Homo sapiens: one gene and its partners. The protein of the gene in region 1 purifies or fractionates together with the protein of each later gene. This does not show direct contact. Each region holds a gene or a part of one and is shown in the gene's direction. Other genes may lie near its edges. The genes, in order: HSD17B8, QDPR, MOCOS, OGA, CYP24A1, BCKDHA and ARFIP1.

Region 1 (3,954 bases):
TTTTTCAGAAATTGTCTATTCTAGACTGCTCCCTCTTCTCTTTTTATTTTGATGTTTAGTTTCCAAATCCATGTCCCCTATACCTATACCCCACCAGCCACTTCTAAACCACTGATAATCTTTAGCTATTGGTGAGTGCCTTTTTCTCTTTTCTGCCCATCAGGCGATGCGTCTGCAACTACTGACAGCAGTAGGGGCACTGGCAGGCACAGCCTGTGCCCTTCTCACTGAAGGAGGAGCAGTGGGCAGTGAAATTGCAGGTGGTGCAGGTCCTGGCTGGGTCCTGCCATTTACTGCAGGTGGCTTTATCTACGTAGCAACAGTGTCTGTGTTGCCCGAGCTGCTGAGGGAGGCATCACCATTGCAATCACTTCTGGAGGTGCTGGGGCTGCTGGGGGGAGTTATCATGATGGTGCTGATTGCCCACCTTGAGTGAGGGGTGGATAAACTACCCCTGCCCCAAACCTCTACCCCTAACTCCAGGTCAGGGGTGCGTAGAGGTTGGGGGCCCTGGCCAGGGACATCTGCCAAAGGAAGGAACTGTAGCCTGGGAGAATGGTTACTTTGGCATTAGGGCCTTCAAGGGCTGGCAGTCTTACAGAGGCTGGAGCGGTGAGAATGAGAGGCCAGAGGGACCATAGTGTTGGGCACTGTCTGACCATGTTGCATTTGGAAGGCTAAATGGGGCCATGAAGAAGGCTGGAAGGGACAGGGGGTGATGGCAGCCTACCTGGTGTCCCCTACCCCACCTGTTCTCGGAGAACCAAGTTGCTACACAGGAAGTTCTCCAAGGTCCAGTTTCCTTTCTCCCACCAGTTGGTGGAGGCTTCAGGGAAGACCAGAGTCCTGGACAGAGAGGGTAACAGGAGGAGTCGGGGATAAACATCAAACATCAATCGTGTGTCCTGATTTGGGAGTGATTGGGGGGATGGGGTGGGAGAGGGTTAGTTGGTATTCTCATGGCCTGATTTTTTTTGTTTCTATTCCTTTTATATCACTGTGTTTGAATCGAGGGGGAGGGGTGGTAACCGGAAATAAAGACCTCCGATCTTCCGCCCCACATGCAGTCTTTGTCTTTTTGGGGGGAATGGGGCCCCTTGTCTTCTCCACACCCGGGGCCCCTAAGCAGCAGTGTCGGGCCACGCCCCCTCGGTGGGAGGTCGGCCTGCGCTGGTGGCCGCAGATGGCCTAAGGCTGGCGGGCCTTTGATTGGCCCCGGCTTTGCCCTTGCCACGCCCCTCTGCGCTGGGATTGGCTTAGTGCTGGGATTCCCACCCACCCACAGCCCGCCATGGCGTCTCAGCTCCAGAACCGACTCCGCTCCGCACTGGCCTTGGTCACAGGTTGAGGGGGTTCTTTCCCCGGGCGGTTTGGGGTATTGGAGTGAGGTCAGGGGCGTGCCCTTGGAGTGCGCGGCCGCTGTGACCTCTGGCCCCTTACCCACATTTTACTTTCTGCCCTGTGACCTCTGATCCCTGCCCTCTCCTCCCCGTGCCCGGTCCGGCGTGTTCTGTCCTACCTCAGGTGCGGGGAGCGGCATCGGCCGAGCGGTCAGTGTACGCCTGGCCGGAGAGGGGGCCACCGTAGCTGCCTGCGACCTGGACCGGGCAGCGGCACAGGAGACGGTGCGGCTGCTGGGCGGGCCAGGGAGCAAGGAGGGGCCGCCCCGAGGGAACCATGCTGCCTTCCAGGCTGACGTGTCTGAGGCCAGGGCCGCCAGGTGCCTGCTGGAACAAGTGCAGGTGAACGCTAGGCCACTTTCCCCCTCTAAAGCTCTGATATTGCCTCCACTGCCCCGGCTTTTTGTGGGGGGTTTTTGATGCGTAACCTCCCCCTCCCATAGGCCTGCTTTTCTCGCCCACCATCTGTCGTTGTGTCCTGTGCGGGCATCACCCAGGATGAGTTTCTGCTGCACATGTCTGAGGATGACTGGGACAAAGTCATAGCTGTCAACCTCAAGGTGGCGATCTCTGAACCTGCGACGTTTGGCCCCCTTAGCCTGGGGAGGGAGTTGGAGGAGGGCTGTCACCCCAGCTGATCTTTTCTCCCTTGTTACCCTTTCCCGCCAGGGCACCTTCCTAGTCACTCAGGCTGCAGCACAAGCCCTGGTGTCCAATGGTTGTCGTGGTTCCATCATCAACATCAGTAGCATCGTAGGAAAGGTCAGGTTGAGTTGGACGAGGTCAGCCAGCCAAGTGGTATAGAGAGGAGAACCCCTCCTTGAGACTCCTGACTCATTCCACATCTCTGACTCACCTATAGGTGGGGAACGTGGGGCAGACAAACTATGCAGCATCCAAGGCTGGAGTGATTGGGCTGACCCAGACCGCAGCCCGGGAGCTTGGACGGTTGGTCAGATGCTTGAGGGTGCTGGGGAGCACCTGGGGGGTCTGAGGGAGGTACCAGCATTCAGCCCTCTCCAGAATCGGCAGCCACTCTCCTTCCCACAGACATGGGATCCGCTGTAACTCTGTCCTCCCAGGGTTCATTGCAACACCCATGACACAGAAAGTGCCACAGAAAGTGGTGGACAAGGTAGGAGGCTGTGGGTGGAGGGCAGAATCATTCAGAGACTCAATCTCTCTGGGCTTCACAGAGAGAGAGAGAGAGAGAGAGAGAGAATACTGGGCACAGTTCCTGGCAAACATTAAATATTCAATGAATGTATGAGAAATGAAGACAAAAAAGGGTCACAGACTCAGTCTTCAAAAAAATCCATAAAAGAAGCTTTCACCCACATGAGTATTTCCTTACAGATTACTGAAATGATCCCGATGGGACACTTGGGGGACCCTGAGGGTGAGCACTGAATGTAGTGGGGTCCCTGGGAAGGGGGCCTGAATGAAGAGATCCCCAAAGTTTGGGGATTTTCTAGGGGACTGGTGGTTGGTGTCTGTGGAGAGGTTTGTGGGGAGGGATGTCTTTGGTGGGAGATTATGGCTGTTTTGGGTCTATGGGAGTGAGCAGAATTCTGCCCTCTCCCCACCATTCTCATAGATGTGGCAGATGTGGTCGCATTCTTGGCATCTGAAGATAGTGGATACATCACAGGGACCTCAGTGGAAGTCACTGGTATGAGGCCAGCATGGGGAGGGAGAGGGCAGAGAAGTAGAACCCAGACTATATGAGAAAGCAAGTAAGGGGAGTCTGGAGCCACTGGGAAGGGCAGAGGTTCCCAAGGCCAGGGACAGAAGTGGGTACCCCCTAGCCCATTTGTGTCTCCACCCATGCATCTGTCCAAATGTTTCTGCCCCTCCCAGGAGGTCTTTTCATGTAACTGCCTCAAGGACCCTGGACTCTGCTCACCCCCCCACCACTCTGCCTGGCCTCCTGCTGATGAGGACTCTAAGTTCCCAGGATACAAAAGGGGTGGCAGTGTATGGTTCAGGAATGCTGAATATGGGAAGCAGGGGTGCTTGTGACCCTAATAAATTCCAAGTCCTCTTCCCTGCCACCTCCGGCTCTTCTTGTGTCCAAGCCCTCAGACCCTTCCCCACCTCCCCCTCCTTTCCCTTTCCCGAAGGATTGTTCCCTTTCTCTGCCTGGTCTCCCAGGGCAACCCCCGCCGCCGGGTGTGAGAGGAAAGAGTATGTGTCACTGTGTATGCGTGACACTCCGGGTCTTTTTGAAGGGAGGGGTTCGTGCGTCACCCCTTTCCACTGGTTCTGCAGCACCAGTCCCCTCCCCCCAACTCCCTGGGTTCTTATGGTCCCCAAGGGTGATTTGTTCATGGCCCCATCTTGGTGTCCAGTCTGGCCTTGAAAGGGGGTCTTGGAACAGGTGGCCCTCCCCCACCCCTCTCCTTTCTCTGAGTCCCCCCCTCCCCTTTCTCTCCACCTTACAATAGCTGCAGCCGGCCTGGGGTCGGATGGGGGGGATTAGGGGAGGGGGCCAGGATTAGGGGAATGAACCAGCCGATGAAAGGGGCTGGAGAGAGCAGGAGGGAGGGGGCTG
Region 2 (3,500 bases), on another chromosome or scaffold:
TGCCTCCTGGGTTGAAGCAATTCTCCTGCCTCAGCCTCCTGAGTAGCTGGGATTACAGGTGCCTGCCACCACCCCCAGCTAATTTTTTGTATTTTCAGTAGAGACGGGGTTTCACCATGTTGGCCAGGCTGATCTTGAACTCCTGACCTTGTGATCCGCCCGCCTTAGCCTCCCAAAGTGCTCGGATTACAGGCATGAGCCACCGCGCCTGGCCTGTTCTTCCTTTTTTTTAAAGCTGTTGTTTCTCTAACTAGGAAAGCCATTTGTGTTCATTGAGGAAAATTTGGAAAAAGTGAAAAATGATACAAAGATAAATTATATAATCATTTTGAGTTAGTTCACTGTTAACATTTTGGCCTATTGTCTTTTTCTATGCATATTGTATGTTACTCCTTTTACAAGTTTAGGTAATTTTGTATTTTATAGTTTATGGTAAGCTTTGTTTTTTTTTTTTTTTATACTTAAATAATTCTCCAGATTACTGAAAAAACCTCTTTGTAGATGTGTGATATTCCATTTTATGGAATGGCCACAATTTATTTAGTTTGTTTATTGTACATTTGAGTTTTTTGCAGGATTTTTGTTTTACTATTGTCAAGAATGTTGTGATGAACGTCTTTGTCTACATATCTGATTATTATTGTTTTTTGTTTTAAGAGAGTCTTGCTCTACTGTTGACACTGGAGTGCAGTGGCACAATCTCAGCTCACTGCCACCTCTGCCTCCCGGATTCAAACAATTCTTGTGCCTCAGTCTCCTGAGTAGCTGGGATTACAGGCATGCACCCCAATGCCCAGCTAACTTTTTTGTATTTTTAGTAGAGACAGGTTTTTGCCATGTTGGCCAGGCTGGTCTCGAACTTCTGACCTCAAGTTATCCACCCACCTTGGCCTCCCAAAGTAATGGGATTATAGGAATGAGCCACTGCACCTGGCCCACATATCTGATTATTTAGGATACATTCTAAAAAGTGGAGTTACCCAGTTCACAGCAGGAACACTAACAAAACAGGTTATTTTTAATTATAAAATGATATGCATATTATAAAACAAAAGTCCAACAAAACTACGTAAATATAGAAATAAACTGTGAAACTGTCCCTTTTCTCCCCATCATAGTATCATTTCCCAGAAGGATGCACTATTAACAGTTTGATGGATATCCTGGTATAAATATCTTAGATGCTCTAGGCTGGGTGCAGTGGCTGACACCTGTAATCCCAGCACTTTGGAAGGCTGAGATGGGCGGATCACGAGGTCAGGAGATCAAGACCATCCTGGCCAACATGGTGAAACCCCGTCTCTACTAAAAATACAAAAATTAGCTGAGCGTGGTGGTGCACGCCTGTAGTCCCAGCTACTCGGGAGGCTGAGGCAGGAGAATCACTTGAACCTGGGAGGCAGAGGTTGCAGTGAGCCAAGATTGTGCCACTGCACTCCATCCTGGGTGACAGAGTGAGACTCTGTCTCAAAACAAAAAAAAAAAAAAGAAAGAAAAATCTTTGATGCTCTTAAGCAGTGCTTAACTTTCTTGAGAAGCCCTTCTGGTGAGCTGCCTGGATGACTTTTGAGTCAGGTTCTCACTGTGTTGCCCAGGCTGGACTGGAACTCCTGGGCTCAAAGGATCCTTCTGCTTCATTCTCCCGAATAGCTGGGACTTCCTGAGTAGCCACTGTGCGCAGCTGACTCTGTGTTTAATGGTTTTTAGTGCTGTAGCCCACATTCCCAAGGATAACTTCACATCACTATGTGAAGCGCCTTATTTTCCCAACCACTCAGTGTGGCAGGCAGGCAGGCCATTTTACAGCTGTGAAGACAAGTTTGCGCGACTAAGTGACAAGGCCAACAAGCTACTCAGTGGTGGAGTCAGGATCATAGGTCTCCAGATACGAACTTTAATAAGTTCAGGTGCCACTTGGTCTGTACGTGGGTCTGCTTTTCATTTAGTTGCACTTTCCTTGGTAATCTCAATACTGATGTTTTATGATCCTTATCTGGTTTTTATAACAAATTTTTAAAATTTTAGAAGTGATGCATGTATGATATAGAAAATACAAATAAGCAAAAAGAAAAGGGAAATCATTTATAGTTCTACCATATAGTTAATCATTTATTTATATTTCCTTCCAGTCTGTCTCTCCAAAATATACATGTATAAATCTATACATTTTGAACATAAAACTGTGAGCACAACTCTGCTACTCATTTGCTCTTTCTAAAGTGTCAGTTTGACATAGATTGGAATGTAAAAGCCAGATGACTTATTTTAGCACTTCATTTTTGTTGTTCTTATTTTTCTCACTGTGGTCTCAATGTTCCCATACCTAAGTCATACAGATTGACCTTAGTGAATTTAATAGTGAAAGTTGACATGGCATCATTGTTAGTTGCCAGGCACCATTCTCAGTGCTTTATTTTCATTAACACGTGTAGTCTTCATTACATCCCCAAACAAAGCTTCTAATTTTATCCTCCTTTTAAATGGGGGTAACTGAGGCACAGAAAGGCCCTGGTATTTGTCCAAGGTCAAACAGATAAAAGGTTGCATAGCCACTATTTGGACATGGGCAGTGGGGGTCTGACGGCTGTTCTCTTAACTGCTATGCTAAGCTGCCTTAAAGCAAAATAGTTTCATGTGAATAAAGTAATAAAGGCCAAAATGGCTGGGTGCAGTGGCTCATGCCAGTAGTCCCAGCACTTCAGGAGGCTGAGGCAGGAGGATCACTTGAGCCCAGGAGTTTAAGACCAGCCTGTGCAACATGGCGAAACCCCATCTCTACAAAAAAATACAAAAATTAGCTGAATGTGGTGGCACACAACTGTAGTCCCAGCTACTCGGGAGGCTGAGGTGGGAGGGTGGCTTGAGGCTGGAAGGCAGAGGTTGCAATGAGCCGAGATCATGCCACTGCACTCCAATCTGGGCAACAGAGCCCAACCTTCTCTAAAAAACAAACAAAAAATAAAGTAATAAAAGCCAAAACTAAATGGAAGGGCGGTTCCTGGGCTTGGAGAGCAGCAGCCCTGCCAGGTGCGGGTCTCTGTAATTGGTGTCTCTTCAGTGTCTCTTCTGCTCTGATTAATTATAGGTTTCTAATGTCCCTGTAGATTGAATGTGGAGGTTGTCCCCACCCAAGGCTTGGCAGTAGAGTGCATCTCTAAGACAGAGATTGAGAGATGCGTTTGTGCTTATAAACTTTTCTTTGAAAATCTCTTCCTTCTTCTACTACTCCACCAAAGGAAGAGGAGTACCTTCTCCACCATACCCCCAACCTTAAGAATTTCTGAACAAACAGCATAACATTCAGTTTTGTCATGAAACTGGGGAAAGAGGTAATCAACTGAAATGTTCCTACTGGGAGAGACACAGGGTGTTGATTTAAGTCTTTTTTAAAAAAAACTAAATGTAGAGATGAGGTCTTGTTATGTTGCCCGGGCTGGTCTTGAACTCCTGGGCTCAAGTGATCCTTCTGCCTCTGCCTCCCAAAGTGCTGGGACTACTGG
Region 3 (3,500 bases), on another chromosome or scaffold:
CCTAGCACTTGGGAGGCTGAGGTGGGCAGATCACTTGAGCCCAGGAGTTCAAGACCAGCCTGGGCAACATGGTGAAACCCCGTCTCTACAAAATATACAAAAATTAGGCAGGCATGGTAGCTCATGCCTAAAGTCCCAGCTACTGTGGAGGCTGAGGTGGGAGAATTGCTTGAGCCTGGAAAGTCAGAGCTGCAGTGAGCTGAGATTGCACCACTTCACTCCAGTCTGGGCAACAGAGTGAGACCCTGTCTCAAAAAAAACAAAAAAACAAAACAAAACAAAAAAACTTTCTTTGGCCAGGTGCAGTGGCTCATACCTGTAATCCCAGCACTTTGGGAGGCCAGCCTGGCCAACATGGCAAAACCCAGTCTCTACTAAAAATATAAAAAAATTAGCCCGGTGTGGTGGCACATGCCTGTAATCCCAGCTATTTGGGAGGCTGAACCTGGGAGGTGGAGGTTGCAGTGAGCCAAGATTGAGCCCCTGCACTCTAGCCTGGGTGGCAGAGCAAGACCCTATCTCTCAAAAAAAAAAAGAAAAAGAAAAAAAAGTGTGTAGCACCTGCCCCTTCACAAGCACCTTCTCTCTCTCTGTCTCTCTCTGTCTCTCCTGTCACCATATGAAGATGTGCTTGCTTCGCTTTCCACCAAGATTGTAAAGTTTCCTGAGGCCTCCCCAGCCATGACTCCTATACAGCCTGTGCAACTGTGAGTCAATTAAACCTCTTTTCTTTATAAACTACCCAGTCTCAGGTAGTTCTTTATAGCAATGTGAGAATGGACTGATACAACATTTAGTGGTATCAGATTCAAAAGTTGCCAAAGGAGGGTGAAGAATCACCAGGGAGCCTCCCTCTCACGCCAGCTGCAGCCACTGTGTCTACCTCAGAGTCAATTGCTGTCACTCATGTCTTGTGTATCTTTCCAGTGGTTGTCCATATTTATGTGTGCATGTGCACACTTTTTGAGACGGGGACTTGCTCTGTCACCCAGGCTGGAATGCAGTGGCATGATCATAGCTCACTGCCGCCTTGACCTCTTGGGCTTAAGCTATCCTCTTGCCTCAGCCTCCCAAGTAGCTGGGACTACAGGTGTGCACCACCATGCCTGGCTATTTATTTCTATAGAGATGGGGTCTCACATGTTGCTTATGCTGGTCTCAAATTCCTGGCCTCAAGCAATCCTGCCTTGGCCTCCCAAAATCCTGGGATTATAGATATGAGTCACTGTGTCCAGTACACTTAAAATACGTGTGCACACACACACACACACACATGTGAGCCATATGTCTCACCACTTGACATAGTTTGTGTTTAAGGTCTTTCTCTGCCATTATCATGCTATCTTCTATTTTGTTCATTGCTGTGTCTCCAGCACTTAGAACAATGCCTGACACATAGTAGGTGCTCAATAAATATTTCTTGAATGCAAATACACTCAATAAACTAGGAATGAAGGAAAAGTTAACCAACTGATAAAGGTCATCTGCAAAACCCCCCACAGCTAACATCATACTTAGTGGTGAAAGACTGAAAACTTTCATCCTGAGTTTGAAACAAGACAAAAGTGCCTGTTCTCACCATTTCTATTCAACATTGTACTGAAGGCTCTAGCCAGGGCAATTAGGCAAGAAAACAAAATAGAAGGGATCCAGATTGGAAAGAAGTAAAACTATCTCTACTTGCCAATAATGTAATTTTGTGTATAAAAAATTTCAAGGAATCCACACACAAAACTATTGGAATTTAAAAACAAATTTAGCCAAGTGGTAGGATACAAGATCAATATGCAAACATCAGTTCAATTTCTATACATTGGCAATAGATACTATGAAAATGAAATTAGAAAAACAATTCCGAAGGCATCAAAAATAATAAAATACACAGAAAAAAATTTATCAAAAGAAGTATCACATACACTGAAAATTGTAAAACATCATTGAAAGAAATTAAAGAAGACCTAAATAAATGGAAAGATATCCTGTACTGATGGGTTGGAAGACTTAATATTGTTAACATGGCAATAATCCCCAAATTAATATACAGATTCAATGAAATGCCTATCAAAATCCCAGCTGCCTTTTTGCAGAAGTTGACAAGCTGATTCTAAAATTTATATAGAAATGCAAGTGACTCAGAATAGCCAAAGCAATCGTTTTATTTTATTTTTTGAGTCAGAGTCTCACTCTGTCACAAAGACTGGAGTACAGTGGTGCAATCTCAGCTCACTGCAATCTCCACCTCCCAGGCTCAAGTGATTATCCTGCCTCAGCCTCCCAAGTAGCTGGGATTACAGGCGCACGCCATTACCGCCTGGCTAATTTTTGTATTTGTAGTAGAGATGGGGTTTCACCATGTTGGCCAGGCTGGTCTTGAACTCCTGACCTCAGATGATCCACTCACCTCAGCTTCCCCAAGTGCTGAGATTACAGTGTGTGCCACCACACCTGACCTCAAAGCAATCTTGAAAAAGAAGATCAAAGTTAGAGGAATCACACTTTGCAGTTTCAAAACTTACTACAAAGTTACAGAATGGGCCGGGCGCGGTGGCTCACGCCTGTAATCCCAGCACTTTGGGAGGCTGAGGCGGGTGGATCATGAGGTCAGGAGATCGAGACCATCCTGGCTAACAAGGCGAAACCCCGTCTCTACTAAAAATACAAAAAATTAGCCGGGCGCGGTGGCGGGCGCCTGTAGTCCCAGCTACTCGGGAGGCTGAGGCAGGAGAATGGTGTGAACCCGGGAAGCGGAGCTTGCAGTGAGCCGAGATTGCGCCACTGCAGTCCGCAGTCCGGCCTGGGCGACAGAGCGAGACTCCGTCTCAAAAAAAAAAAAAAAAAAAAAAAAAAAAAAAAAAAAAAGTTACAGAATGAGGACAGTGTGATATTGGCATAAGTATACACATATAGACAAATGAAATATAATTTTAATTTAATAAACCCATATGTCTATGGTCAATTGATTTTCAACAGATACCAAGACTATTCAACGAGGGAAATAACTTCTTCAATAAGTGATATTGGGACAACTGGATATCAACATGCAAAAGAACGAACTTGGACCCCTACCTCATTCTGCATTCAAAAATTAACTCAATGGATCAAATACCTAAATATGAAACAGCTAAAAGTATAATATTCTTAGAGTAATATATAAGCATAAATCACTAGGACCTTGTTGAATTAGACAATAATTTCTTATGACACCAAAAATGCAACAACATAAATAGACAAATTGGATTTTATCAAACTTAAAAAGAACTTGTATGTTTCAATGAACACCATCAAGAAAGTGAAAGGACAACCCACCAAATGAGAGAAAACACATCCACACAAAAACTTGTACACCAGTATTCATACCAGCAATCATTTATAATACACAAAAGTGGAAACAATCCAAATATTCCTCAGTAGATGAATGGATAAAATGTGGTATATTCATACAATGGAATACTATTCTGCCATAACAGGAATGAAGTTCTGATACATGCTAAAATGTGGAC
Region 4 (3,500 bases), on another chromosome or scaffold:
GGCGTGGTGGCGGGCTCCTGTAATCCCAACTACTCGGGAGGCTGAGACAGGAGAATCGCTTGAACCCGGGAGTTGGAGGCGTAGATTGCATTGAGCCGAGATAGTGCCACTGCACTCCAGCCTGGGCGACAGAGTGAGATTCCGCCTGAGAAAAAAAAAAAAGAATATTTTGTATCACTTGTGAGAGGCTAACATTAGATTGTCCAGATGAAAGTGCTACAGTTATACATTGGTATGTAATGAATTTTAATTTGGTCTGTCATTGTCCTTTTTGTGGTGCAGAGGAGTCATTCTGCCTAGAGATTGGAGCTAAAATACATTGCAGAAATTTGTTTTAGACTAGTCTCTTATGTAGATTGTGTGGGTTTATGTAGAACATTTTGTGTTCAGAATGCTTTTATTAACCTTCTTCATGGTACTCTTGAGAGGCTGTCCTTATCTCTTACTGATGATTAGACTGAGACAAGTGGAAAGTAAAGGTTAGACAAGATGTAAAGTGTGTGGTTTGAGCTGTGATGAGCACACTAGGGAGTTCCAGATACCAGTTTGATGCTTATTCAACCATTTAGGTTATCGGTCTGCGAGTTTGTTTTCTGCAGTGTGTGCATAACTAGTGTTTTGTCCTCTTAGAGGATACTCTGGGGACATTCTTGAGTTTTCTTTGTTTATTCCTTTCCGTTTAAGGACCAGAAGTAATATTCTTGAATTTTCATTTGTTCAGATCTTTGCTCTGTAATTAAGATTGCGTGAGAGTTTGTTGTTTGGGCCAGTTAGGCTGTTGAATTTCTTGGGAATGTGGTTTCAGGCATTTTTTGGTCCCTTTGATTATATCATTGTATGTGGAACTTTTTTTGAGAGAGAGAGTTTTGCTCTGTCACCTAGGCTGGAATGCAATGGCGCGGATCTTGGCTCACCGCAGCCTCCGCCTCCTGGATTCAAGCAGTTCTCCTGCCCTAGCCTCCCAAGTAACTGGAATTCCAGTCCTGGCCAGGAACTTTTTTTAAAAAAGAGGAGCACGATCATAAAATTAAGTCAGATTCTTTCCTAATCCTATCTCTGATTTGTTTTTAATTGCTTTACCTGTTTATCTCCCCTCACCCTTTTGTTGTTGTTGTTTGAGATGGAGTCTTGCTCTGTAGCCCAGGCTGTAGTGCAGTGACGCAGTCTCGGCTCACTGCAAGTCCGTCTCCCAGGTTCAAGTGATTGTTGTTTCTCAGCCTCCCAAATAGCTGGGATTACAGGCATTTGCCACCATACCTGGCTAATTTTTGTATTTTTAGTAGAGACATGGTTTCACCATGTTGGCCAGGCTGGGTCTGGAACTCCTGACCTCAAGTGATCTACCTGCCTCAGCCTCCCAAAGTGCTGGGATTACAGGCGTGGGTCACCTCACCCGGCCTCCCCTCACCCTTTCTAAAGCAGTTTTACTATCATTCTAGGAAGTAATTGTTACTGTTGGCAGCTTGTATTACATTGCTGCCGTTCCCCATTATAAGATTGAGATCTCTTAAAAAATTGGAATTAAATATATTTGGACTTTATCAACAGTGGAAAGATGATAGATGTTTGTTTTAAAATAACTATCACCTAAGTAACTAATGTCATGGTAGAAAAAATAAAAAAAATTACCTAAGCAAAAATGGAATAAAAGTCACCTTGTAACGTCACCACCCAAAGATTAAAGGAACCTTAGTATTTTATTAAATATCCTTCCGATTTGGTGTATTTTATGCTTTTTACAAAATAGGATTGTATTATATGTTTTGTAACTTGCTTTTCTCAATAAAGCTTACCACATTTTAAAACTGAATATAATTTCATTCTTACTTTGAATCTAGGATTTTATGGAAGACCTTGGGTTATGGAACAGAGAAAAGAACTCTTTAGAAGGTAAATCTTCATTATATGAAGGAGAGAGGAGAACCTTAAACTCTTAACATTTTCTTTTGTTTGAAGAAATACTAACAGTGAATAGCCCAGGTGCATTTTGATGGTTTCTCAATTGCAGAAGTTATTTTACCTTGGTCCCTTTTTTCTTCACCTAGGCCTTTGATTTTCAAACTTTTCCTGGGGAGCTGAATAAGTTTTGGGCTTCACCTTACCCAGAGCTGTTGTGTTTTTTAAGAGTGTTTTGTATGTTGGCATACATTGTAATACTTAATTTTTTTAAATTCCACTGATTACAAAAAGGTTAAAAGCTACTGTCATAGAATATTAGCTTTGTATGAGATGGAGATGCTCCAAGAAGAGGGAAATGGAGATTGACAGCCTATGAATGTTGCCTGTTTATACATATGTAATTTTCTTTCTCCTTAAGGCTCCAGAAATGGGAATTAAATACATACTTGTATGCCCCAAAAGATGACTACAAACATAGGATGTTTTGGCGAGAGATGTATTCAGTGGAGGAAGCTGGTAATCTTTTTCTTTTTATCCATAAATTCAAAATCTGTGAAGAAAACGGTTATATTTTAAATGTAGTTGTACAAGAATTTTATGACATTTTATTTTTATTTTGTAGGTAGTTTCCTTTTCTTCTATCTGGTAACTATTCAGTTAGCTGAGATTGAAAGAGTGCTCTGCGCTAGCAAGGTCATGACCATATGTGTGATATCATGGGCGTGCTAGGCTGACTCCATCTGTTCTGTGGTCATAGATTGTGCTGCTTACTTCTGCCAGTGGATTAAACAGTGGGCCACTGGGCAAAGAAGTGCTGGAGCTGGGCTAGGCCCAGGGCAAGGCAAGTGAGGCACGTACCTTGGGTGCAAATTTTAAGGGACCCCCAAAAAGTAATCAACATAAATAATATTTTATGCAATTTTTTTAAAAAACCAAAATTAATGCAGAAATTCATGATGTACACAATGCTAAAATTTTAGGTAAAGACAGGATCAGCACTACTGATTGTTCCTTTTGCTTCAGGCTCTAGTATGGCTTGGCCTTGTCAGCAGTTACTGGTCCTTAAACCCTAGTCCAGGAAAGTGGGAAGCCATTAATAGGCTGTCTTTGGGTTTTGTTTTGTTTTGTTTTGTTTTTTGAGACAGAGTCTTGCTCTGTCCCCCAGGCTGGAGTGCAGTGGTGCGATCTCGGCTAACTGCAAACCTCGCCCTCCCGAGTTCAAGAGATTCTGCTGCCTCAGCCTCCCAAAGTGCTGGGATTACAGGCTTGAGCTCCTGTGCCCGGCCGGCCTGCTATGGGTATACTTAACGTTGAGTTGGTTACATAAAATTGATAAAAAGTAGTATAGCATTGAACCGCCAAATTAGAGAGGTGCTTTTCTTTGGGAACTTGTAAATGGTGAAACATTTTTGTACTTGAAATTAAATGGTATACGCATATAGCTAACAAGATATTTGGTTACAGAGCCCAGCCAAGGCACAGAAGGCTGAAAGTTTTCTTGAATTACAAAGAAGCAATTACAGCTTACCCCATCTCCATCTAGTGTTGTGGTTTACTACTCTATTTAAGTGTGCCTTCAACTTAATTACTTTCTGGTGGTG
Region 5 (3,500 bases), on another chromosome or scaffold:
CTTGGTGCTCATTTGTGTGAGTGGCACATGGCACTTAGCAACAGCGTCTTCATGTCTGCGGAGGTGGACACAATGATCATTTTCAGGAAATATTTGGCTTAAATTAGCAAAGTACGGCCTAAAAAATAAATACATATGACTACTAGTGGTGAATATTATGTAGCTTAAAGCTACATTGGCTGTTTCCACCAATATTTTTTCTCTAGTCATTGCCTGTGCAGAGGAAATAAAAGATGCCACTTAAAAGGGTGTGGGCCTTTGTCAGAAACTGTAGCTGGAGTACTCAGCTCAATGTTTGAATTTCTTATTTTTGGTGTTGGCACCCTCGTATGAGGGCTGTTTACATGTGGTTGTAACCCTCAGTGTAGGTAGTGCCTGTTTATTTTTGTGGTGACTTTTTAGGGTGTGGCCAAAGGAACTTTTAAATTTCAGAAATGCCATTTATTGTCCATTTCCACTATAACATTCTCTTAAAGCCTCTCATTAGCAACACCCTGAGGATCACCATCCCTCTCTGTTTACTCCATTTTTATATGAATGTTTTTTATATCAAGCAACTTTTAATTAAATGTTTATTTTGAGATCATTGTAGATTCACATTCAGTTCTAAGAAAAAATAGAAAGGGATCCCTTGCATCCGTTACCCAGTTTTCCACTAATAGTAATGTCCTGTCTAACGAGAAAACGTTGTCACAATCTGAAAATTGGCATTGATTTAACCCACTAATATTCTCATTTCACCAATTTTACATGTACTCATTTGTGTTCGAACAATTATTGCGTCAAACTGTATTTTAGGTCAGGCACAGTTGGCTCATGCCTGTAATCCCAGCACTTTTGGAGGCAGGCAGATCACCTGAGGTCAAGAGTCTAAGACCAGCCTAGCCAACATGGTGAAACCCCATCTCTACTAAAAATACAAAAATTAGCCAGGCATGGTGGTGGATGCCTGTAGTCCCAGCTACTCAGGAGGCTGAGGCAGGAGAATCGCTTGAACCCAGGAGGTGGAGGTTGCAGTGAGCCGAGATAGTGCCACTGCACTCCAGTCTGGGTGACAGAGTGAGACTCCATCTCAAAAAAAAAAAAAAACTGTATTTAAATGTTCTAAAGCAGCTGATTAAAGGATTATACTTTGATTCCCTCAGTAAATAATTTAAAATATATCCTTAATTGATATGTTTTATGAAATAAGTCTGCTTTTTTATATATTGGATTTGTCTAAAGGCGTAGCTATAAGGACGCGTGAAAGAGCTTCACTGATACATTTGCAGAATAAGGTGGTGGGCATCACCTTTTTTTCAGCTAATAGTGGTTTAATGCAGTTATTTACAAAAACTCAAGTTTATGTCCATTTGGCTTGCAGACAGCAAACAGTCTAATGTGGATTCTCTACAATTTATCCCGTAATCCCCAAGTGCAACAAAAGCTTCTTAAGGAAATTCAAAGTGTATTACCTGAGAATCAGGTGCCACGGGCAGAAGATTTGAGGAATATGCCGTATTTAAAAGCCTGTCTGAAAGAATCTATGAGGTAAGAGCCTATCTCTGAGCCAATATAAATGTGTTAGAACACTGTTCTCGTAAACACAAAACAAGTGGTCCCCTACTCATGGGCGGCTTCCCCTAGCTAATTAGAAACAATTATCACACTGCAAAAAAATCTTTGGAGCCATATTTCTTTTCTGGCACTCATTTCCTAAATCATTTGGGCAAATTCTATTAAATCTTGGAAAGCCAGTGCCCTCCCCTTTAATTCAATAATCTTGCTACTCTAATGAACGCTGTAAGCACTAATTAAGATAGGGGCATGATTGAAGGTTATGAGATGGAGGCTCACAAAAGAGCTATATTATTATATAATAGGACACAGAGAAAGCTTTGCTTTTGAGCCTCTGGTATAAAACATTTTTTGGAAATTCTTTTTACATCCTTTTGGGAAAACAAAACTCACAACATTTTAGGATTAGAAGGATACTGTCAACTTTGTGAAGAGTAGATTGGAGAAACATAGAACAAACATCACGCTTCAAGGGCTAGCACGGAAACATACACATTTTAGTCTGGAATGAAGGGGGAAAACCAACGTTAACAGTTTACTAAACAGCCTTGCACTGGGGTTTTAACTAACTCAAGAAGATGAGAGGAACAAGAGATACAATTATTGAGAAGAAAAAAACAACTTCTTTAGGAAGATCTGTGATCATGCTGCCTCTTTGAGTATGCACTTGGGCAGCATTTATTTAATCCAATCTGCATTCCCATTGACACTTCAGAGAGAACTTAGACTGTGCTCACCTTTACATCTTTGATTTTATCTTTTCAGGCTTACGCCGAGTGTACCATTTACAACTCGGACTCTTGACAAGGCAACAGTTCTGGGTGAATATGCTTTACCCAAAGGAGTAAGTAGAATTTGTATATTCTATACCTTACAAAACCTTGGAAGATACACTTTGCAAATATTCACCAGATCTCCCTAGACTTTGTACTGGAAAATATTCATTTTGGGAATGCAGAGATGGTAGAGAATAGTTGACATGTTGCATAGTATAGAATTAGAATTCACGGCTATGGAGACAGAGACCTGCATTCAGTTTCATCTTTTATCTGTGTTGTCTTGAGTGAGTTACATAATCTCTGTGAGCCTCAACTTCGTCTGTAAAAGGGGTTTAATAACAGAATCTGCTGCGCAGGGTGGTTGTGAGTATGGTGCACAATTCTAAAGCCCTTTACCTATTTATTACCTGGCACATTTTAAGCACTCAGCGCATGTTGGCAACCATCATTATTATAAATTTGTGGATTTGGCTTTTGATTTGTAAGGTGACAACTTGTGTCAATTTTGCCATTCAAAGGTCTCTTCTGGTTATTTTAAATACTATGTGTCTCTGCATGTGTTTAGACAGTGCTCATGCTAAATACCCAGGTGTTGGGATCCAGTGAAGACAATTTTGAAGATTCAAGTCAGTTTAGACCTGAACGTTGGCTTCAGGAGAAGGAAAAAATTAATCCTTTTGCGCATCTTCCATTTGGCGTTGGAAAAAGAATGTGCATTGGTCGCCGATTAGCAGAGCTTCAACTGCATTTGGCTCTTTGTTGGGTAAAACCTTTACCGGTTTCTGCAATTATGTTCTGTGCTGTTTCACAAGGCAGAAGAAGAGAGGGGTAATTCTGTTTTTGTGTGCGTGTGCATTACAGATTGTCCGCAAATACGACATCCAGGCCACAGACAATGAGCCTGTTGAGATGCTACACTCAGGCACCCTGGTGCCCAGCCGGGAACTCCCCATCGCGTTTTGCCAGCGATAATACGCCTCAGGTGAGCATCTAGGCGGTTCATTATCCTCTGCAAGGTAGTGAGAATGACGAGGGATGAGCTATGCTGGGAAGTCAGCCAGACTGGGGTTTGAATCCCAGCTCACCTCTAACTTGCTGGGTGACCTTGAGCAGTTCCCTAAACTCTCTACTTCCTTTTTTTTTTTCATTTGTAAAATGATGACC
Region 6 (3,500 bases), on another chromosome or scaffold:
CTTGCTCTGTCACCCAGGCTGGAGTGCAGTGGCACAATCTCGGCTCACTGCAAGCTCTGCCTCCCAGGTTGACGCCATTCTCCTGCCTCAGCCTCCCGAGTAGCTGGGACTACAGGCGCCCGCCACCACGCCCGGCTAATTTTTTGTATTTTTAGTAGAGATAGGGTTTCACCTTATTAGCCAGGATGGTCTCGATCTCCCGACCTCATGATCCGCCCGCCTCGGTCTCCCAAAGTGCTGGGATTACAGGCGTGAGCCACCACGCCCAGCCTAATTTTATTTATTAATTTATTTGAGATGGAGTCTCACTCTGTCACCCAGGCTGGAGTGCAGTGGTGCGATCTTGGCTCACTGCAACCTCCACCTCCCAGGTTCAAGCGATTCTCCTGCCTCAGCCTCCTGAGTAGCTGGGACTATAGGTGCGTGCCACCACGCCTGGCTAATTTTTGTATTTTTAGTAGAGATGGGGTTTCACCATCGTGATCAGCCTGACAGGCTGGTCATGAACTCCTGACCTTAAGTGATTCACCTGCCTCAGCCTCCCAAATCTGCTGGGATTACAGGCATGAGCCACCGCACCCAGCCATATTATTTCTGTATTTTCATTTGGCTTACCTGTCAACTTGACACTTTTTTGTTTTTTTAGGCTAGTCAGGTGAAGCAATGTGAGTAAGATCACCTGTCTTGATTATAACTTGTGTGTTCAGTGTTTGTCATTCATCCCTCCCTGTCTCTAGCCTTCAGTTCAGGGCATGATTTGGAGCAAATGTTCAGTATCTGTTTAACAAGAACAATCATGAGAAATACTTACTCACTACTTGTGTTTATGAAACATTATGTGCCAGGCACTGGGCTGAGCAATCCACACAGGTCAACTCGGTTAATCCTCATGACAACCCCTGAGATAAGTACTTATACCACCCTCGGTGTACACAGGAGGAAACTGAGGCTCAGGGAGTTTTTCTTTAAAAATTTTTTCTTTTTTTTTTCCTTGAGACAGGTCTTACTTTGTCACCCAGGCTGGAGTGCAGTGGTGTGATCTTGGCTCACTGCAGCCTCTTGGGCTCCAGCGATCCTCCCACCTCAGCCCCTCAAGTAGTTGGGGAGTACAGGTGTGCACCACCATGCCCAGCTAATTTTTTGTAGGGATGGGGTCTTGCCATGTTATCCAGGCTGGTCTTGAACTCCTGGGCTCAAGCGATCCTCCCTCCTTGGCCTCCCAAAGTGCTGGTATTACAAGTGTGAACCACCACACCTGGCCTTAAATTTTATTTATATATTTATTTTTGTAGAGACGAGGTCTCACTATGTTTCCCAGGCTGGCCTCGAACTCCTGGACTCAAGTGATCCTCTTGCCTCAGCCTCCAGAGTAGCTAGAATTACAGGCGTCTGCCACTGCACTTGGCTCAGGGAGTTTAAGTCACATAATCAGGCAGCGGTCTGCTCAGTTAGAGTCCATGCGCTTAGCCATGGTGCCTTCAAGTGACTCCACCAGGGTCACCCCAGTACTTCCTGGGCAGACCAGACCATCCAGAGCGGGCAGGTTGTGCTTTCCTGCATGGTGGGAGAGGACGTGGCATGAAGCTTTGTGTAAATCTGTGCAGCCTCTGCCATTGTAAATCACTGGCCACCGGGACAGACTCCCCCACCCCCTTCCAAAAACTAGAGGAACAGATGGGTGGAGTCGCATCCTTCCTCTGCAGGCATTTGGCCACCCACTCCCATTATGGAGCATTTCCTCAGGACCAGGCACAGCGTGGAGCCCTTTGCATAGCTCACTGAATTGGGGCAGCAACCCTGGGGCTGGGGACTACCATTATCTCCACCAGCCCAGCAAAGAGGGGAGGAGGGTACAGCCGAGACCCAGCTGCAGTATGTGGAGCACACTGGGGTGCCGTGAAGATAGCTGTCCAGCCTCTAGAGGCTGACAGTCCTGCCCTGACACAGTGGTTTGTTCTCAGACTCTGGCCTCCCCTCTTAGTGCCCGTCTGAAGACTTCAGCCTTCGGTCCTCTTCCATCAGCATGCCGTCTCCCCTGTGCCTCAGTCTCCCTCTCTGGAGTATCTGCTGGGGCCACAGTTTGGTTTTATTGTTCTTTGAGACAGGGTATCACTTTGTTGCCCAGGCTGGAGTGCAATGGTGCAGTCATGGCTCACTGCAGCCTTGACCTCCTGGGCTCAAGCCATCCTCTCACCTCAGCCTCCCGCAACTCCAGTATCTGGACTACATGTAAATGCCACCATTCCCAGCTAATTTTTTTTTTTTTTTTTAGATAGAGTCTCACTCTTGTCACCCAGGCTGGAGTGCAATGGTGCCATCTTGGCTCACTGCAACATCCGCCTCCCAGGTTCAAGCCATTCTCCTGCCTCAGCCTCCCAAGTAGCTGGGATTACAGGCACCTACCATCATGCACGGCTGTTTTTTGTATTTTTAGTAGAGACAGGGTTTCACTATGTTGGCCAGGCTGGTCTTGAACTCCTGACCTCAGGTGATCTGCCTGCCTCGGACTCCCAAAGTGCTGGGATTACAGGCGTGAGCCACCACGCCCAGCCTTCCTGGCTAATTTAAAAATTTTTCAGAGACGAGGGTTTTGCCTAGGCTGGACTCACTATGTTGCCTAGGCTGATCTCGAACCACTGGCCTTAAGTGATCCTCCCACCTCAGCCTCCCAAAGTACTGGGATTACAGGCATGAGCCGCTGCACATCGCCACAGTTTGATTTTAGTATCCACTTTAAGGTGCAGTTAGTTCTTCCCAGCTCCTCTTTTCCCTATCTCATACAGTGTAGTCACTTCCCTTTCTCCCACTTCTCACCTTCCTAGATTTTGTTTTTCTCTCTCTTACCAAGTTTTGAGTATGTAATACGTCCCAGATCGGTGCTGAACCCCTGGTGTGAGTTAACTTAGCAACTTTTCACGTGGTGTTCTGCAGCCTTCTTACAGATAAGGAAATTCAGAGAGGTGAAGTGTTTTTGCAGAGAGCCACACAATGAGCTAAGAAATTAGAACCCAGGGCAGTTGAACTCCAGAGCCAGGGAACTTAACAGCCCATTCATGCATTCACTCAGGAATTCCCTCTTGAGTGCCTGCTGTGAAGGCAACCTGGACGCTGTCTCTGCCTTCCTGGGATTGTGGTGTGTGTGGGAGACAGACACGAAACAAAGCAATCTTCTAGGTCAGTGTCTGGCTATGCTGGGTACTCAGAAGGGGGAAGCACTGTGCTGCAAGAGGCCGGCTGTTTCCTCCTCACAAGGGGAGGCCTGCAGTGACATTGCCAGGCCTGAATCTGCCCTGCCATTGGGAGTGTAATTTCCTCACGACTACAAATGCAAATAAATACACACACTGAACATGCTACCCCGCTAGAACTGTGGACAGCTTGTTCACTGCAGTTAAAGGAAGACGGAGGGACACATTTGAGCACGCATGTGTGAGATCCAGCTTGTGGCAAACCCTGCCATTCTTTAACATCTGTGGGAAGTGAAGCCACCATTACTGACC
Region 7 (3,500 bases), on another chromosome or scaffold:
AGAATAAGTTTTCCTCTGTCTAGCAACCTCACTTGGGGGAGCAGTCAACATAAGTTTATAGAGAATAGCGTATGCTAGGCTGGGCACGGTGCCTCACACCTGTAATCCCAACACTTTGGGAGGCTGTGGCGGGTGGATCACTTGATGTCAGGAGTTCAAAACCTGGCCAACATGGTGAAACCCCATCTCTCCTAAAAATAAAAAAATTAGCCGGGTGTGTGTTGCATGCCTGTAGTCCCAGCTACTTGGGAGGGGCTGAGGCAGGAGAATCGCTTGAACCCAGGAGGCGGAGGCTGCAGTAAGCCAAGATCCCACCACTTCACTCCAGCCTGGCCAACAGAGTGAGACTCCATCTCAAAAACAACATCAACAACAGACTAGCTTATGCTAAATTAGTTTCCTTTTAAGGTAATGACAAATTCGGAAGATATTTTATATCTAACACTGTAACAGTTACATTTATTTGCTTACCATGTGCATTAAGCTAAGTGCTTTACATTATTATCTCAAATGATAACCTTATAAAGTGGCTAAAGTCCTCATTTCTGTAGGTGAAGAAAATAAAGCTGAATGATTAACTGAAGCTAAAGTAGTCTGCTCAGAATTGCGCTGGTGGAGCCAGTGCATGGCTCCACCTACGTTGTCTGACTCTAGACTACTACTGTAGACAACTTCTACCATGCGTCCATTATGTCCTTTTTGAAATGAGTTGGAGATATATCACCTGACTTTCTATCAGGTGTTGAGAAAAGGTTGTTTCCTTTCTTAATCTTCAGTGGATGAACATCTGGTTGAATATCATACTGAGAAGTTTGACAAAAAAGTGAATTTGGTGGAGGCAGTTGGTAGGGGTTTCCTATGGGGATGGATATAAGTCTCTGGTGTGTGTGTGTGTGTGTGTTAGAACACACACACCTACTTGAAATAAAGAATTGTAAGTATTATAAATTCTTGAAATGAAGATTCAAATAATAAGCAGATGGTGTGTGTGTATATGAGGAGGGGAAAATGTGAAAATGAAGATTATAAGTAATAAACTGGGCATTGTAAGAGTCTGGAAGTATAAATAAATTTTAGAATAATACATTTGGGATGGAAAGAATAAATTCAGAATGGAAGAAGGAGTAAATTAAACAGGAAACTTTAATATGGTTATGGATGAAAAACTAAAATATTTGTACAGAATGGAAAGTGAGTTGTTCCACTTAATATGGAAGTTGATGACTTAGGATCATGACAATCTAAAAGTCAGATATGTAGCACTACTTCTGGATGTATGAAAAAGACTATTGGCCTGAAAATAATTTTGTTTTCCTTGATCTTTAGTAGCTTTTGGCAGTCATGGAAGCTGCCGAATGGCTCTTGCAGATTAACAGATATTCTTTATGAGACAAAAGTATTTATTTTCTTTTTCTTTTTCCTTTATTCCTATTCTCCTCTTTCTCCCATCTCTCATTCCATTCTCCTCCATTCCTTCTAAGCCTTTGTCTTAGGATGGGCATAGGCAGGTGTTGCTCAAACCTTTAGTTGTTCCTGAAAAAGGAATATAAAGTCTCTTTATGAAATACACTTTTTTCCCTTAATGAACATACTTATTTAAGTGAATGCTGTTTTTCAGAGTAGGCAATCTGCTTTGAAATCTTCTTCTAGTATGACTGTCGGTTCAGATTGAGACATACAAAAATGAAGTTCTTGCCTGGCTTCGTCACTTCGTGACCTCAGTCACCAGAATCTGAATAACTTTGGGTATTTGGAAAAAATCAGATCCTCTCTTGAAAGACAAAGATTTGGGGATCTGAAGGTAGTTGCAAAACAGGCAATTGCTCAAATCTTTTGTGAAAATATGGCAGTGTCTTTACCATGTTCTCACCTAAGATAAGAATTTATATTTTATTTTTGTATATCTGTGATAGCATTGGACTAGCAGCTCCTTGATGTTGAAGCTTGAGCCTCATTGGTCCCTGGGGAACAGTGACATACTGCCTTTGGAACAGGATCATAAAAGCAGCAGAGTTAGTGGTAAGCCCTAAATCTTCCAGAGGAGGGAGTCAGTTCGCCAACTCCAGTTTCTGCTAGCCTGAGATACTCATCATGGCACACATAAAAAATGATTATAATTGTATGGCAGACTAGAGCCAGGCCCTCCTTGGTTCCTTGGAAGCTGTGGAGTGGGGGAATGGGTCACAATTTCAGCACATCTGTAATCCATTCTTGGCACACTGTTTGGAAATCTTTGCCCTAGAGAAAAGGAATATGTTACTCTGTTTAATACCTTCTGTTTGTTTAGCATGTAATAATTTACAAAGCACTTTCACATACATCCTCATTTTATTTTTACTCCAGCCATACCAAATAGGTAGAGCAGATAACATCACCACATTAGAAATAAAGAAATTGAGATTTAGGTAAAGTGCTTTGTCCAGGGTCACATACCTAAAAAGGGATGGATCAGGAATTTATACCCTCAGTGGAAAGAGCCCCTGGGTTTAAGCCCGTGATCTGTAATCTCTAAAATGGCCAGGACCTTATCTGTTTTGTTTCAGTGCTATATATTGCCCAGGGTGGTCTTGAACTCCTGGGCTCAAGCGATCTTCCCGCCTTGGCCTCCCAAAGTGCTGGGATAACAGGCATGAACCACTGCATCCAGCATAAGTATTATAAATTCTTGAAATAAAGATTCAAGTAATAAGCAGAAAATGGAAAGGATGTTTTTTCTATTCCTCTAATCTCTCCACCCACCACACCTCTCTCCCAGTTAATTTGAAAAGTAGGTATTGGGGAATCAGATGAAATATATGAGAAAGCTGTAAACCTGCACTGTCTAATGCCAGGGATGCTAGCCACATGTAGCTATTTAAGTTAGTTAAAATTAAATACAATAAAAGATTCAGTTCCTCATTGTACCAGCCACATTTCAGTGTCAGTATCATATGTGGCTGGTGGCTACTTTATTGGACAGTGCAAATTTAGAACATTTCCAACAACATTGGCCAGCCCTGATAAAACTTTAAAATGCGACATGATATGATGTGATACATAATTCCTATATTGTTGAACCACGAGTTTAAAAATCTGCTACCCATGGTGCCTAGCAGTTTTTGTTTTAGCTGATGAAATGTTATTGCCATGTTCTCTCTCAGCTTTTTGTTTTAACTAAATCCAGATGGTCAAAGTCTAAGTCTAACATTTTTCTTGGATATTTGGGGATTATAGTTAGCTGCTTTTCTAGGATAAAGATGTCAGCTTCATTAAGGGCATGAGTGTTTTCTGTCTGCTTTGAGCTGTAGATCTGTATGTCTTGCTGTCTTGTTGACATCCTTTCTTGAATATCTTAAAGGTATCTCAAATCCAGTATGTCTAAAATGAAACTGATTTCCCCTTCCCTCCCTACAAAACTGCACAACGTTGGTTCTTTCTTTGTTCCTTTTTTCAGTGAATGACACAATTATCTTTTCATTGTAAAATCCAGAAAACTAGAAGTGATCCTTAATTCCCTCTCC

What was found.
Region 2: the proteins of HSD17B8 (region 1) and QDPR fractionate together in Homo sapiens (co-fractionation; one large-scale study listed by BioGRID). This does not show direct contact.
Region 3: the proteins of HSD17B8 (region 1) and MOCOS purify together in Homo sapiens (affinity purification with mass spectrometry; 4 studies listed by BioGRID and IntAct, with this or other methods). This does not show direct contact.
Region 4: the proteins of HSD17B8 (region 1) and OGA purify together in Homo sapiens (co-immunoprecipitation; one large-scale study listed by IntAct). This does not show direct contact.
Region 5: the proteins of HSD17B8 (region 1) and CYP24A1 purify together in Homo sapiens (affinity purification with mass spectrometry; one large-scale study listed by BioGRID and IntAct). This does not show direct contact.
Region 6: the proteins of HSD17B8 (region 1) and BCKDHA purify together in Homo sapiens (affinity purification with mass spectrometry; one large-scale study listed by BioGRID and IntAct). This does not show direct contact.
Region 7: the proteins of HSD17B8 (region 1) and ARFIP1 fractionate together in Homo sapiens (co-fractionation; one large-scale study listed by BioGRID). This does not show direct contact.

Annotation. Positions count from the first base shown.
Region 1 is NC_000006.12:33,203,378-33,207,331, forward strand, and holds HSD17B8 ((3R)-3-hydroxyacyl-CoA dehydrogenase), read left to right. Parts: upstream 1-1,277; 5' UTR 1,278-1,291; coding exon 1,292-1,343; intron 1,344-1,524; coding exon 1,525-1,742; intron 1,743-1,843; coding exon 1,844-1,960; intron 1,961-2,069; coding exon 2,070-2,162; intron 2,163-2,262; coding exon 2,263-2,348; intron 2,349-2,450; coding exon 2,451-2,535; intron 2,536-2,756; coding exon 2,757-2,799; intron 2,800-2,997; coding exon 2,998-3,072; intron 3,073-3,260; coding exon 3,261-3,277; 3' UTR 3,278-3,454; downstream 3,455-3,954. Other genes in the region: zinc transporter SLC39A7 isoform 1 precursor, read left to right, coding at 164-436. UniProt on the Homo sapiens protein: Required for the solubility and assembly of the heterotetramer 3-ketoacyl-[acyl carrier protein] (ACP) reductase functional complex (KAR or KAR1) that forms part of the mitochondrial fatty acid synthase (mtFAS).
Region 2 is NC_000004.12:17,505,591-17,509,090, reverse strand, and holds part of QDPR (dihydropteridine reductase), read left to right. Parts: intron 1-3,500. UniProt on the Homo sapiens protein: Catalyzes the conversion of quinonoid dihydrobiopterin into tetrahydrobiopterin.
Region 3 is NC_000018.10:36,190,497-36,193,996, forward strand, and holds part of MOCOS (molybdenum cofactor sulfurase), read left to right. Parts: intron 1-625; exon of another isoform or gene 626-707; intron 708-2,970; exon of another isoform or gene 2,971-3,500. UniProt on the Homo sapiens protein: Sulfurates the molybdenum cofactor. Sulfation of molybdenum is essential for xanthine dehydrogenase (XDH) and aldehyde oxidase (ADO) enzymes in which molybdenum cofactor is liganded by 1 oxygen and 1 sulfur atom in active form.
Region 4 is NC_000010.11:101,811,945-101,815,444, reverse strand, and holds part of OGA (protein O-GlcNAcase), read left to right. Parts: intron 1-1,838; coding exon 1,839-1,890; intron 1,891-2,317; coding exon 2,318-2,415; intron 2,416-3,138; exon of another isoform or gene 3,139-3,193; coding exon of another isoform or gene 3,194-3,197; intron 3,198-3,500.
Region 5 is NC_000020.11:54,156,987-54,160,486, reverse strand, and holds part of CYP24A1 (1,25-dihydroxyvitamin D(3) 24-hydroxylase, mitochondrial isoform 1 precursor), read left to right. Parts: intron 1-1,363; coding exon 1,364-1,530; intron 1,531-2,322; coding exon 2,323-2,401; intron 2,402-2,901; coding exon 2,902-3,099; intron 3,100-3,197; coding exon 3,198-3,308; 3' UTR 3,309-3,318; exon of another isoform or gene 3,319-3,500.
Region 6 is NC_000019.10:41,404,318-41,407,817, forward strand, and holds part of BCKDHA (2-oxoisovalerate dehydrogenase subunit alpha, mitochondrial isoform 1 precursor), read left to right. Parts: intron 1-3,500. UniProt on the Homo sapiens protein: Together with BCKDHB forms the heterotetrameric E1 subunit of the mitochondrial branched-chain alpha-ketoacid dehydrogenase (BCKD) complex.
Region 7 is NC_000004.12:152,782,954-152,786,453, forward strand, and holds part of ARFIP1 (arfaptin-1), read left to right. Parts: intron 1-3,500. UniProt on the Homo sapiens protein: Plays a role in controlling biogenesis of secretory granules at the trans-Golgi network. Mechanistically, binds ARF-GTP at the neck of a growing secretory granule precursor and forms a protective scaffold.